Homo sapiens: one gene and its partners. The protein of the gene in region 1 purifies or fractionates together with the protein of each later gene. This does not show direct contact. Each region holds a gene or a part of one and is shown on either strand. Other genes may lie near its edges. The genes, in order: SPIN2B, PABIR2 and ARHGAP39.

Region 1 (3,749 bases):
ACATGGATGAAGCTGGAAACCATCATTCTCAGCAAACTATCGCAAGGACAAAAAACCAAACACCGCATGTTCTCACTCATAGGTGGGAATTGAACAATGAGAACACATGGACACAGGAAGGGGAACATCACACAATGGGGCCTCTTGTGAGGTGGGGGTAGGGGAGAGGGATAGCATTAGGAGATATACCTAATGTAAATGAGGAGTTAATGGGTGCAGCACACCAACATGGCACACGTATACACATGTAACTAACCTGCACATTGTGCACATGTACCCTAGAACTTAAAATATAATTTAAAAAAATAAAAATGAAAATAAAATAAAAAGCCCTCACTGAAACTATGACATATCTGCAAATTGCTTTCCATAAAAATTGTATAAACTTTCACTTGCATCAGCACTAGATATGAAGCTTTTTCATGATCAATGACATTAAGTAATATTTTAATGTTCTTTCATACTTTGACTGTTGAATCGAGATTATTATTACTTCTATTTTTCCTTGTAGATGTTATTTTATTAAGTGTAGTTGTTCTGTTAACATCCGACTCATCCCCTCATTCAAATACCATAAGTATCTGAATAAGAAAGATACCATTAAGCATTGTTTTGTTTACAGAGTTTTTGGTTGGTTCATTTGCTTTCTGTTCAATTTTATTTTGCTGCTTTTTACCTTTTAATAAATCAAATATTGATACTGGTACAACATTAGTATACAACCTTTCTCAAAATATTTAAATAATTATTTCAACATTCCTTAAAGAATACCCAACGTTTCTCCACTGATTTATAAAACTATAACTTTAATTATTTCTTATAAAGTTATTTTTTTGCAAAGCTTTCTATTCCGATACATAGATCTGATTACTGGTTATTGTGGAAATATTATGTCAAATGCCCAGTACTGGGAGAAAAGCCAAATTATAAATCACTTTAAAATTGAGTTTTACGGACCAAGTGCAAGATATGTAACAGGTGCTCAATAAATATTTGTTGAATGAAAAAATCGATTAGAAAACATCTAATTTCCTGGAAAAATTAATAGACATGAATTGCAGATAAAAAACAAATCCCAGTTTTGCAAAAGTTTAGGAAAAAGGAAAAAAAACTATGAGCATTAATATTTTGCTGTGAGGCCCTCAAAAATGGGAGATGGGACTGCAGTTGATGATTTTCCTCTTAATATTAATTTCCTAAAATGTAGATAGTGTTCACGTTGTACATGCAATTATCTTGCAATAAAGAAAAGGAAAAAAAAATCCCTCGAAAACAAAAACAAAAATGCCAGGAAATATCAGTCAGCAAAAATTAGGTAGAGACTGGGTCAAAATGGCAGACTTACCATAGTGAATTTCTCTGTTCCAACTCCAAATCCTTTCAAAAAGAGGAAAGACATATTTACGTGTAAAGAATAAATCCATAAGGGCATGGGACGGTGCAGGGGCAGGGGTGGGCGCGGGGGTGGGCGCGGGGCGGCAGCAAGGCGAATTCCAAGAAGATGGAAAGCAGGGCAGGCAGACTAAGAAGGTGGAGGTGGGAACCAAGTGGCCCTGAAACGGGTGAGGAAGGGGCCACAGGGTTCCGAGGACGACTGTGGCACGAACTACTCCGGATTTGGAAAGAGGCGGAGTCAGAGCCCATAGCTCCGCCGGGGCTACAGGCTGTGTGGTGGGCGTGGGAGCCTGGTGGAGAGGAGAGCCGGGTGTTTGACAGGAAGAGGAGGCCTCTCTCTGGGCAGGAAGCTGCGCTACGGAAAGAGGGAGGAGACTGCCGCGGCGACAGCAGGGACTGGTGGAATCCCGATGTGGCTGAGGGGCCGCCACCGCCAGCAGGGAGGCGGAGGGCTAGCGAGCCAAGCGGTGGGGACGCCGCTGCCTTCCTCTTTGCCTGTCTCGCCGCCCTCCTAGACACGCTCCTCATCTACGGATCCTACCCTCCCCGCTCTTGCAAGCATTCACTCGGCCGGTCGCCTGCTGACCCTCCTTCGCCACAGGCTCGTAGCGGAGGCAGCAGCGAGGTGTCCGATTTGGGCACGTGAGGCCCGCGATCCCCGGCGGTGGACGCCAGGCAGGGCAAGGCCATTAGTGGGCGCCAGAATGGAGAGGGGGATGGGAAGGAATCCAGCAGGAGACATGGGGTGGAGTTGGGCGCCAGGCAAGGGTGGGGTGGGGGAGTGCGGTGAGCAACATGAAAAGGGGGTAGGAACGGGAGCCAGACAAGGATTTGAAGGTGAGCGCCGGGAAGCAAGGGCGGTGGGTACCAGAGAAGTGGTTAGGGTAGGCAGGGGGTGTTGTGGACAGCAGCTGGGACGCTCAGGGAAGGAGGGCAGTGGGTGCCGGTCAAGGCCTCTTTGCAAGGGGATTGGAAGTGGACGCCAGTGGTAGCAAGGGGTTCCGGGAGGGCAGTGGGCTCTGAGCTAGGAGGAGGTGGCCCAGCCACTTCTGCAGAGTTCCTAACCCCAGACAGCTCTACTGCACCACCCCAGCCCTTCCCCACAGCCCAAAGGAACTTAAGAGGGAGAGCACTGCGGGCATGCAGCCAGGATTTCCAGCATTGCTTCCAGGCTCCTAGGGGAAACTTAGGCACTAGCGCAGACTACATCCAGACATGGCTATAGGGAAAAGTTTGCCTTGTGGCACACTGGGTGTGTCTCTCTATCCTCTCTCCTCCCCCAGCAGGCATGAAGACCCCCAACGCACAGGAAGCCGAAGGGCAACAAACCAGGGCAGCTGCAGGACGGGCCACTGGGTCTGCAAACATGACAAAGAAAAAAGTCTCCCAAAAGAAGCAGAGAGGCCGACCTTCATCCCAGCCCCGCAGGAACATCGTGGGCTGCAGAATTTCTCATGGATGGAAGGAAGGAGATGAGCCCATCACGCAGTGGAAAGGAACCGTTCTGGATCAGGTGCCTATAAATCCCTCTCTTTATCTGGTGAAATATGATGGAATTGACTGTGTCTATGGACTGGAACTTCACAGAGATGAAAGGGTTTTGTCTCTTAAAATTCTTTCTGACAGGGTGGCATCATCTCACATTAGTGATGCCAACCTTGCAAATACCATAATTGGCAAAGCAGTGGAACATATGTTTGAGGGAGAGCATGGTTCTAAGGATGAATGGAGGGGGATGGTCTTAGCTCAAGCACCTATCATGAAAGCCTGGTTTTATATTACCTATGAGAAAGATCCTGTCTTGTACATGTACCAGCTTCTAGATGATTATAAGGAAGGTGACCTCCGCATCATGCCAGAATCCAGTGAGTCTCCTCCAACAGAGAGGGAGCCAGGAGGAGTTGTAGATGGCCTAATAGGTAAGCATGTGGAATATACCAAAGAAGATGGCTCCAAAAGGATCGGCATGGTCATTCACCAAGTGGAAGCCAAACCCTCTGTGTATTTCATCAAGTTTGATGATGATTTCCATATCTATGTCTACGATTTGGTGAAAAAGTCCTAACTGTTAGGGTAAAATTTGGCACATGTGTGGAAACAAATGTATAATTTGTAGACATGCAAAAAATGTTGCCTTTCAGTGTATTGAAAGCTTATGGAATCCCTGATAACTAAACATCTTTGCCAGCATTAACTGTTGTTTTGCTCTAAAAAATACAAACTTGTGTGTACATGACATGCTGTGTGTAAGCCCTTTGTCTTGTTGAAAAGATCGGGTGTGTTTGGTGAATGGGGCATGAAAAGAAGGAACAGCTATCAGAGAGCTTGTGGCTTAGAGGAAAATACACAGAATA
Region 2 (3,749 bases), about 78 Mb from region 1:
TCGGGAGGCTGAGGCAGGAGAATCGCTTGAACCAAGCAGGCGGAGGTTGCAGTGAGCTGAGATCGCACCATTATACTCCAGCCTGGGCAACAGAGCAAAAACTCTGTCTCAAAAAAAAAAAAAAAAAGAAGATTAACTCTTTTTCCCAATATTTCACTGTGAAATTTTCAGACATCAAAAGTGAAAGAATTTCACAGTGAACAACCATATACCCACTGCCTATAATCTACCATTAACATTTTAACCAGAGTTTTTTCTTTTCTTTTTTTTTGTATTTGAGGTGGAATCTCACTCTGTCGCCAGGCTAGAGTGCAGTAGTGTGATCTCAGCTCACTGAAACCTCTGCCTCCTGGGTTCAAGCATTTCTCTTCCCTCAGCCTCCCAAGTAGCTGGGATTACAGGCATGCGCCACCACCCTCGGCTAATTTTTGTATTTTTAGTAGAGATAGGGTTTCACCATGTTGGCCAGGATGGTCTCAATCTCTTGACCTCGTGCCCTCCTCGGCCTCCCAAAGTACTGGGATTACAGGCGTGAGCCACAGCGCCCAGCCCCAGAGTTTTTTAGGGGGAATTTAATGCTGATTTATATTTAGTGGGGAAAGACACACATACATACCCCCCACAATAATACATCCTTTTTAAGAATAAGGAAAAAATGTTAAAGTTCATAGATCAATCAAATCCAAATTACTTTATTTATTTATTTTTGCGACGGAGTTTTGCTCCTGTTGCCCAGGCTGGAGTGCAATGGTGCGATCTCAGCTCACTGCAACCTCTGCCTCCCGGGTTCAAGTGATTCTCCTGTCTCAGCCTCCTGGGTAGCTGGGATTACAGGCATGCACCACCACGCCTGGCTAATTTTTTGTGTTTTTAGTAGAGATAGAGTTTCACCATGTTGGTCAGGCTGGTCTCGAACTCCTGACCTCAGATGATCTGCTTACCTTGACCTCTCAAAATGCTGGGATCACAGGCGTGAGTCACTGCGGCCCAGCCCCAAAATACTTTTTAAATAGGGTATCTTTTTTTCTTTAAACTGTTGGGGGTATTTTGTCATATAGAATATTTTTTAAAGGACTTAAAATGCTGTATTATTCCAGGTTGCCATATGCTGGTTCAAATCATGTATTGGATTTCAGTTACTCAATTACAGAAGAATTTTCCATTTCAGTCATTGATAAGATTGTCCATTTTATTTATGTATTTGTTGGGCTGGACTGCTGTTTTATCTTGCATCGTGGATGTTCTTCACATTATCCTGTTTGTTTTTTCATCAAAGCAGGAGAAGTCAGAGTCCAGTCAAGTGCATTAGACCCAGTGTTCTTGGTCCTCTTAAAAGAAAAGGTATGTAGCAGCGTGGTGACTATAGCTAATGCTACTGTGTCACATACTTGAAATTTGCTAAGAAAGTAGATCTTAAGTGTTCTTACCACACACATACGAAAGGTAACTAGGTGAAGCAAAAGATGTGTTAAAAACTTGACCGTGGGCTGGGCATGGTGGCTCACGCCTGTAATCCCAATACTTTCGGAGGCCGAGGCAGGTGGATCGCCTCGGGTCAGGAGTTTGAGACCAGCCTGGCCAATATGACAAAATCCCATCTCTACTAAAAATACAAAAATTAGCTGGGCGTGGTGGCAGGTACCTGTAATCCCAGCTACTTGGGAGGCTGAGGCAGGAGAATCGCTTGAACTTGGGAGGCGGAGGTTGTGGTGAGCTGAGATCGTACCACTGCACTCCAGCCTGGGCAACAGAGTGACACTCCATCTCAAAAAAAAAAAAATTGACTGTGATCATCATTTCACAGTATGTACATACATCAGATCATCACATTGTATACCTTAAATATATATAAATTTATTTGTCATTTATACTTCAGTAAAGCTGGGGGGAAAAAGAAAAAGATAAGCATCACGCTTCTGGTCTTATACCTAGCCAAGCTTGAATTAAAAACTAGAACTCCTGTCTGAAATGAGCTAACAGCATTGCTCTCTTGTGTTCTAGGGAAACTCAAAAGTATTCTTCCAAATGTTTGCTGTGCTGATTCTCAATTTTGTAAATGAGTTATTTGATACATCTATATTTTCTTATACTTCATAACAGTTTTATTCATATATTCATATTATCATTATATATTCAAAAAATTGCCTCTCTGTTATCTAAATATGAAAGAGATGCATAGTTTATAAACTGCAGAAATATATGCTAATGCCGTAGCAAACATATCCATAAATGTGCTGTATACTCAAATATAAGGTAAGGTTTACCCCCTCATCAAATTATGCCTCATCAAAGCAAGAATTGCCTTATATTCAATTCTATGGAGTTTTTTATATAACAGGGTGCTCTCAGTTACCTTATTTTGAACCACAAAGCAGTAGGCTAAAATAGTTTAGTTTAGTATCAGTCAACACTAGTGTTAGATGCTTATAAAGGGCACCTGATGGCATCTCTTTAAAAAGGCAATACAGGTCTGTAATACCAGCACTTTGGGAGGCCGAGACAGGAGAATTGCTTTGAGCTCAGGAGTTTGAGACCAGCCTAGGCAACATGGCAAAACCACGTCTCTACAAAAAATACAAAAATTAAGCAGGCGTTGGTGGCTTGTGCTGTTGTCACAGCTACTTGGGAGGGTGAGGCTGGAGAATTCCTTGAGCCCAGGAAGCAGAGGTTGCAGTGAGCCGAGATGGCAGCCTGGGCCACAGAGTGAGACCCTGTCTCAAAAAAAAAAAAAAGCAACACAGGTTTTTGTTTGTTTTTTTTGAGACCGAATTTCGTTCTTGTTGCCCAGACTCTGGAGTGTAGTGGCGTGATCTTGGCTCACTGCAACCTCCACCTCCTGGGCTCAGCGATTCTCTTGCCTCAGTCTCCCGAGTAGCTGGGATTAGAAGCACCCACCACCACCACGCCTGGCGAATTTTCTGTATTTTTAATAAAGGCAGAGTTTCACCATATTGGTCTTGAACTCCTGACCTCAGATGATCCACCTGCCTCGGCCTCCCAAAGTGCTGGGATTACAGGTATGAGCCACCACGCCCAGCCGGCAACACAGGTTTATTCATTATTCCTGGGGATATGACTACATGATTGCAAGTGTCAACGTGTCATTTTAAACGAGTCTTAACAATAACTTTTTTTTTTTTTTTTTTGAGGCAAGGTCTTGCTCTGTCACCCATGCTGGAGTGCAGTGGTGCAATCTCAGCTCACTGCAACCTCTGCCTCCTGGGCTCCTGGGTTCAAGCGATTCTCCTGCCTCAGCCTCCCAAGTACCTGGGATTACAGGAGTACACCACCATGGCCAGCTAATTTTTGTATTTTTAGTAGAGACAGGGTTTCGCCATGTTGGCAACACTGTCCTCAAACTCCTGGCCTCAAGTGATCCACCTGCCTTGGCCTCCCAAATTGCAGGGATTACACAGGTATGAGCCACCATGCCCAGCCATTAACAATAACTTTTTTTTTTTAATTGAGACCAGTCATTAACAATAACTTTTTTTTTTTAATTGAGACGGAGTCTTGCTCTGTCACCCAGGCTGGAGTGCAGTGGTATGATCTTGGCTCACTGCAACCTCCGCCTCCTGGGTTCAAGTTATTCTTCTGCCTCAGCCTCCCAAATAGCTGGGATTACAGGTGCACACCACCACGCCCAGAGAATTTTGTATTTTTAGTAGAGATGGGGTTTTGTCATGTTGGCCAGGCTGGTCTCAAACTCCTGACTTCAGGTGATTGCCTGCCTCGGCCTCCCAAAATGC
Region 3 (3,749 bases), on another chromosome or scaffold:
TGCCTGCTGAGCACTGCAACAGACAGGCATTGTCACAGTCCCCATCCTACAGAGGAGTAAACTGAGGCACAGAGAGACTGCATTATGATCACCTTCATCAGCTGAGAGGCGGTGGCCCCAGTGTATCCCAGTCACAGAGTGTTGGAGGGTGTCCCAGTCCCAAGCAGGCTCAGGCTGGGGTGTTTGTCCCACCAGGGGCCTGGGGACAGGAGATCAGGGCCTGTCTTCCCGCAGGGACAGCAAGCAGGAGGCCCAGCCCTGCCGTCTGCCCCAGGCCCCCCAGCCTAGTGACTACATGTCCCAGCTGCTGAGCTGAGGCCCTGGGTTTCTGCCGCCTTCCTGCAAAGCTCATTCCCTCCTTGCCTTCTTGAGGCTCTGAAGCCTGGGTCCAGTGTGCGTGGGCACCATCCATTCTAGAAAAACAAGGGTACCTCATAGCCTGCCCAGAGGGGCCCTTGGTTCCACATGGTCCCACGCTGGAGGCTGGGGCCACATCCTCTGCCAAGACCTGTGGTCCCAAGGACCATGACAGATTTTCTAGGACCTAAACGTCTATGAAAAAAAAAATTCATTTTGGTTCCTCTAAAAAAGAGTCTCCTTAGCAGTCACATGTCAACTATTCTGTGATAATTAGAGATGGACTCAAGACACGTGTGCACTTTTTTTTAACCTGGTCCAAGGACCCCATGCCCTCAGCTGTCCACCAGAAACTGCTCCTTCAAAGAAGACAAAGGTGTTCCGATTGGGGGTCAGGATCCAGAGGCCCCCCTCACCCTGGCAGGCGGTAGGCGCTGGGCGCTGGGGCAGGTCTCATGTCCAGAAGCACAGGGTCCTGTCCATCTGTCCGAGGTCCATGGCTCCCCTGGCCCCAGACAGCTTCTCTTGGCGTGTTCTCTCATCTGCTGCTTCCCGACCTGGAGCAGGAAGGTGCCGCGCCTTCCAGACCCAGCCTGGGAATCCTCTCCCCTCTAGCACCTTCCCCTGGGCTCTGTGTCTGGAGACTCCCCAGGCTGAGGTCCCTGAGTCCCTCATCAGGTGCTGACTCAGGCACACTGCCCCTCCCCTCAGGGACCCTGCTGTCGGGCTGAGTTTTAGGAAGCCCCTCCTTTGAGAAAGGAGACTGGGCCCTCTCATTGCTGCCTCAGTCCTTCAGAAGAGCCCAGAGGTGGTACTTCAGGCCCAGGGCTGCAGCAGAGCTGGGCTTGCTGTGCAGATAGCTCAGTGCCTGCCTCCCCCAGCACTGGCTGCGGGTGCTGGGTAGGTGGAAATGACTCCTCCAGGGGCTCCTGCCCACAGCCTAAAAGCCAGGGAGGGGCCTGAAGCAGAGAAGAGTCAAATACCTGGACAGCTCCCTGGGTCAGGCCCCGGGGAGGGAGCAGTGGGGTCTAGAGGCCCTCAGACCCAGGTCCTGCCCTTCCTGTTCCTGCGTGGCCGTAGGAGGGCAGGTGGAGCTGCCAGGCGGTTCCTCCCAAGCCTGTCCCTCTGCAGGTGGGGAAGTGCTCCTTGGGCCTCTGCTCTAAAGGACACTGCCTGGGAGAGTGTGAGGACCCGCTGTGCTGGGCAGGGGGTGACCGGGGCAAGGCCAGCCCAGCCCCCCAGGGCCCTCGAAGGAGCTGTGTCTGCTCACCCCTCTCCTGGCCCCACACCCACACACCCACATCAGGCTGATCAGGCCCCTTTCCTTTCCAGGGGTGGCGATAAGCACGTATGCCAAGTACTGTTACCACAAGCTACAGAAGGCAGCCCTGACCGGGGCCAAGAAGGTACGGGTGCGCCTGGGGGGCCGGGGAGGGCAGGCGGGGACACAGAGACCCTTGGTGGACAGCCCCAGGAGCCCCGCCTGCAGTTTGGTATGGGGCAGCAGCGCAGAGGGTGCCACATGGAGCCCGCCTAGGCGGGTGGCGGGGTACGCTAGGCTGACCCCGTGTTCTTCTGGGCTGCACCCTCCCCCGGGGGCTCTTCCTGGGCCCGGACCCCCAGCTCAGGAGCAAGGCAGGCAACGGGCTCAGTCACACCGCACCACAGGGACAGGACCCCGTTCCCTGGACCTGTCCCAAGAGCCTGGCCCCTTCCCCACATCCTCTTCTCTCTGATGCGCTGCTCCCATCATACCCCTCCCCAGCGCTCTCAGCCCTGCCACAGACTTCTGGAAGTTTCACCCCAGCTCAGCTAGCTTGGCCTCTGCTGTGCTCCCCAACAGCCCTGGCCGGCCCAGGACTCACTCCCACCTTCCCAAGGGCCCCTGTGAGCTGGTGCTGTAGACGGTGACTCTGGCCAGGGAGCTGGGCTTGTCCGTAGCTCTAGTTGGAGCCAGGAGTTCACAGGGATGAGAGGAGGGGGAGGCAGAGCCAGGGGCAGCCCAGGAGGAGTTAGGGTTTGGGGGGCGAGGAGGGCTGGTCCAGGGATGGACAGTGGCCTGGGGAAACACCACACTCGGACCCAGGTGTGTGGGGCAGGAATTCTGAAGAGCGCCACCCACCTATGTTCGGGGAAAGAAGACAACCGGGGTGGCGGGGGGTCCTGAGGATGGCCAGGCCAGACCAGGACGGAGCCTCTGTCTTCACAGGGGCTGAAGAAGCCCAACGTGGAGGAGATCCGGCATGCCAAGAACGCCGTGTTCAGCCCGTCCATGTTCGGCAGCGCACTGCAGGAGGTCATGGGCATGCAGAGAGAGCGCTACCCCGAGCGCCAGCTGCCCTGGGTGCAGACACGGCTCTCTGAGGAGGTGCTGGCGCTCAACGGTGACCAGACAGAGGGCATCTTCAGGTGCCACGGCAACCCCGGGCGCCGGGTGTGGGGGCCACAGCCATGTGTCCACCATGCATCTGTGGCATGCAGGGGCCATTAAGCCTCAGGCCCACTGGGCTGCTTCCGCACCCATACCTGAGAGCAGATGGAAGGGTGGGGCCACAGTGTGGAAGCTGACCCTGAGGGTGTGCAGGCCAGGAGAGAGGGCAGGACCCATTCCAAAGAGGCAGCACAGCCAGCCAGGGAGGGCGCCCCTGCAGAGACGGCCACCAGGGGTCCAGAGCGTGCTTGGACACCAGCCATGGGTAGCCTGGAGTGGGAGCCTCAGATGACAGGCAGCCCTTGTCTGTGAACAGGGATGGCACAGGGTGCCACCCACTCCCATGACTCACCTGTCAGGGCAAGGGGTACCCAGGCCCCAGGAGGGCAGCTGGGGAAACTGAGGCTTGCAGGTTGAGCCCCAGTGGCCCTTTGGTGAGGGCATCCACCCAGGGAGCCAGCAGGGGTCCAGGGAGGGACGGTGGCCTGGGGAAGCACCACACTCGGACGCAGGTGTGTGGGGCAGGAATCCTGAAGAGCGCCACCCACCCACGTTCGTGGGAAAGAGGCCAACCGGGGTGGCGGGGGGTCCTGAGGTTTTGCTCCCCTCCCCGGGTCAGCAGGGGCCTACCGGAGGGAGTGTCCAGGCGGAATCATGAAGCCGCAGCACAGGCTCCTGTTGCCTGAGACCTGCCCTGTGCCCTGCAGGGTCCCTGGGGACATTGACGAGGTGAATGCCCTGAAGCTGCAGGTGGACCAGTGGAAGGTGCCCACAGGCCTGGAAGACCCCCACGTCCCTGGTGAGTCCCCCACACACGCTGCAGCAGAGCGGGCCTGGCTCAGGCAGTGGTTCTCAGGGGCCCCTGTCTCCGCCTCTGGGGTCCACCCTGATCCTGCCCAGTGATGTGATGGCTTCCCAGTCACTTCTAGCACATCCTCCCTTCTGCCCATTGGACAGTTTC

The links.
Region 2: the proteins of SPIN2B (region 1) and PABIR2 purify together in Homo sapiens (affinity purification with mass spectrometry; 3 studies listed by BioGRID and IntAct, with this or other methods). This does not show direct contact.
Region 3: the proteins of SPIN2B (region 1) and ARHGAP39 purify together in Homo sapiens (affinity purification with mass spectrometry; 3 studies listed by BioGRID and IntAct, with this or other methods). This does not show direct contact.

What each region holds. Positions count from the first base shown.
Region 1 is NC_000023.11:57,119,564-57,123,312, reverse strand, and holds SPIN2B (spindlin-2B), read left to right. Parts: upstream 1-1,764; 5' UTR 1,765-2,075; exon of another isoform or gene 2,076-2,099; coding exon of another isoform or gene 2,100-2,232; intron 2,233-2,678; coding exon of another isoform or gene 2,679-2,683; coding exon 2,684-3,460; 3' UTR 3,461-3,631; downstream 3,632-3,749. UniProt on the Homo sapiens protein: Involved in the regulation of cell cycle progression, this activity is related to the inhibition of apoptosis following the removal of essential growth factors. Exhibits H3K4me3-binding activity.
Region 2 is NC_000023.11:134,783,478-134,787,226, reverse strand, and holds part of PABIR2 (PABIR family member 2), read left to right. Parts: intron 1-1,276; coding exon 1,277-1,341; intron 1,342-3,749.
Region 3 is NC_000008.11:144,532,143-144,535,891, reverse strand, and holds part of ARHGAP39 (rho GTPase-activating protein 39), read left to right. Parts: intron 1-1,689; coding exon 1,690-1,763; intron 1,764-2,566; coding exon 2,567-2,766; intron 2,767-3,495; coding exon 3,496-3,587; intron 3,588-3,749.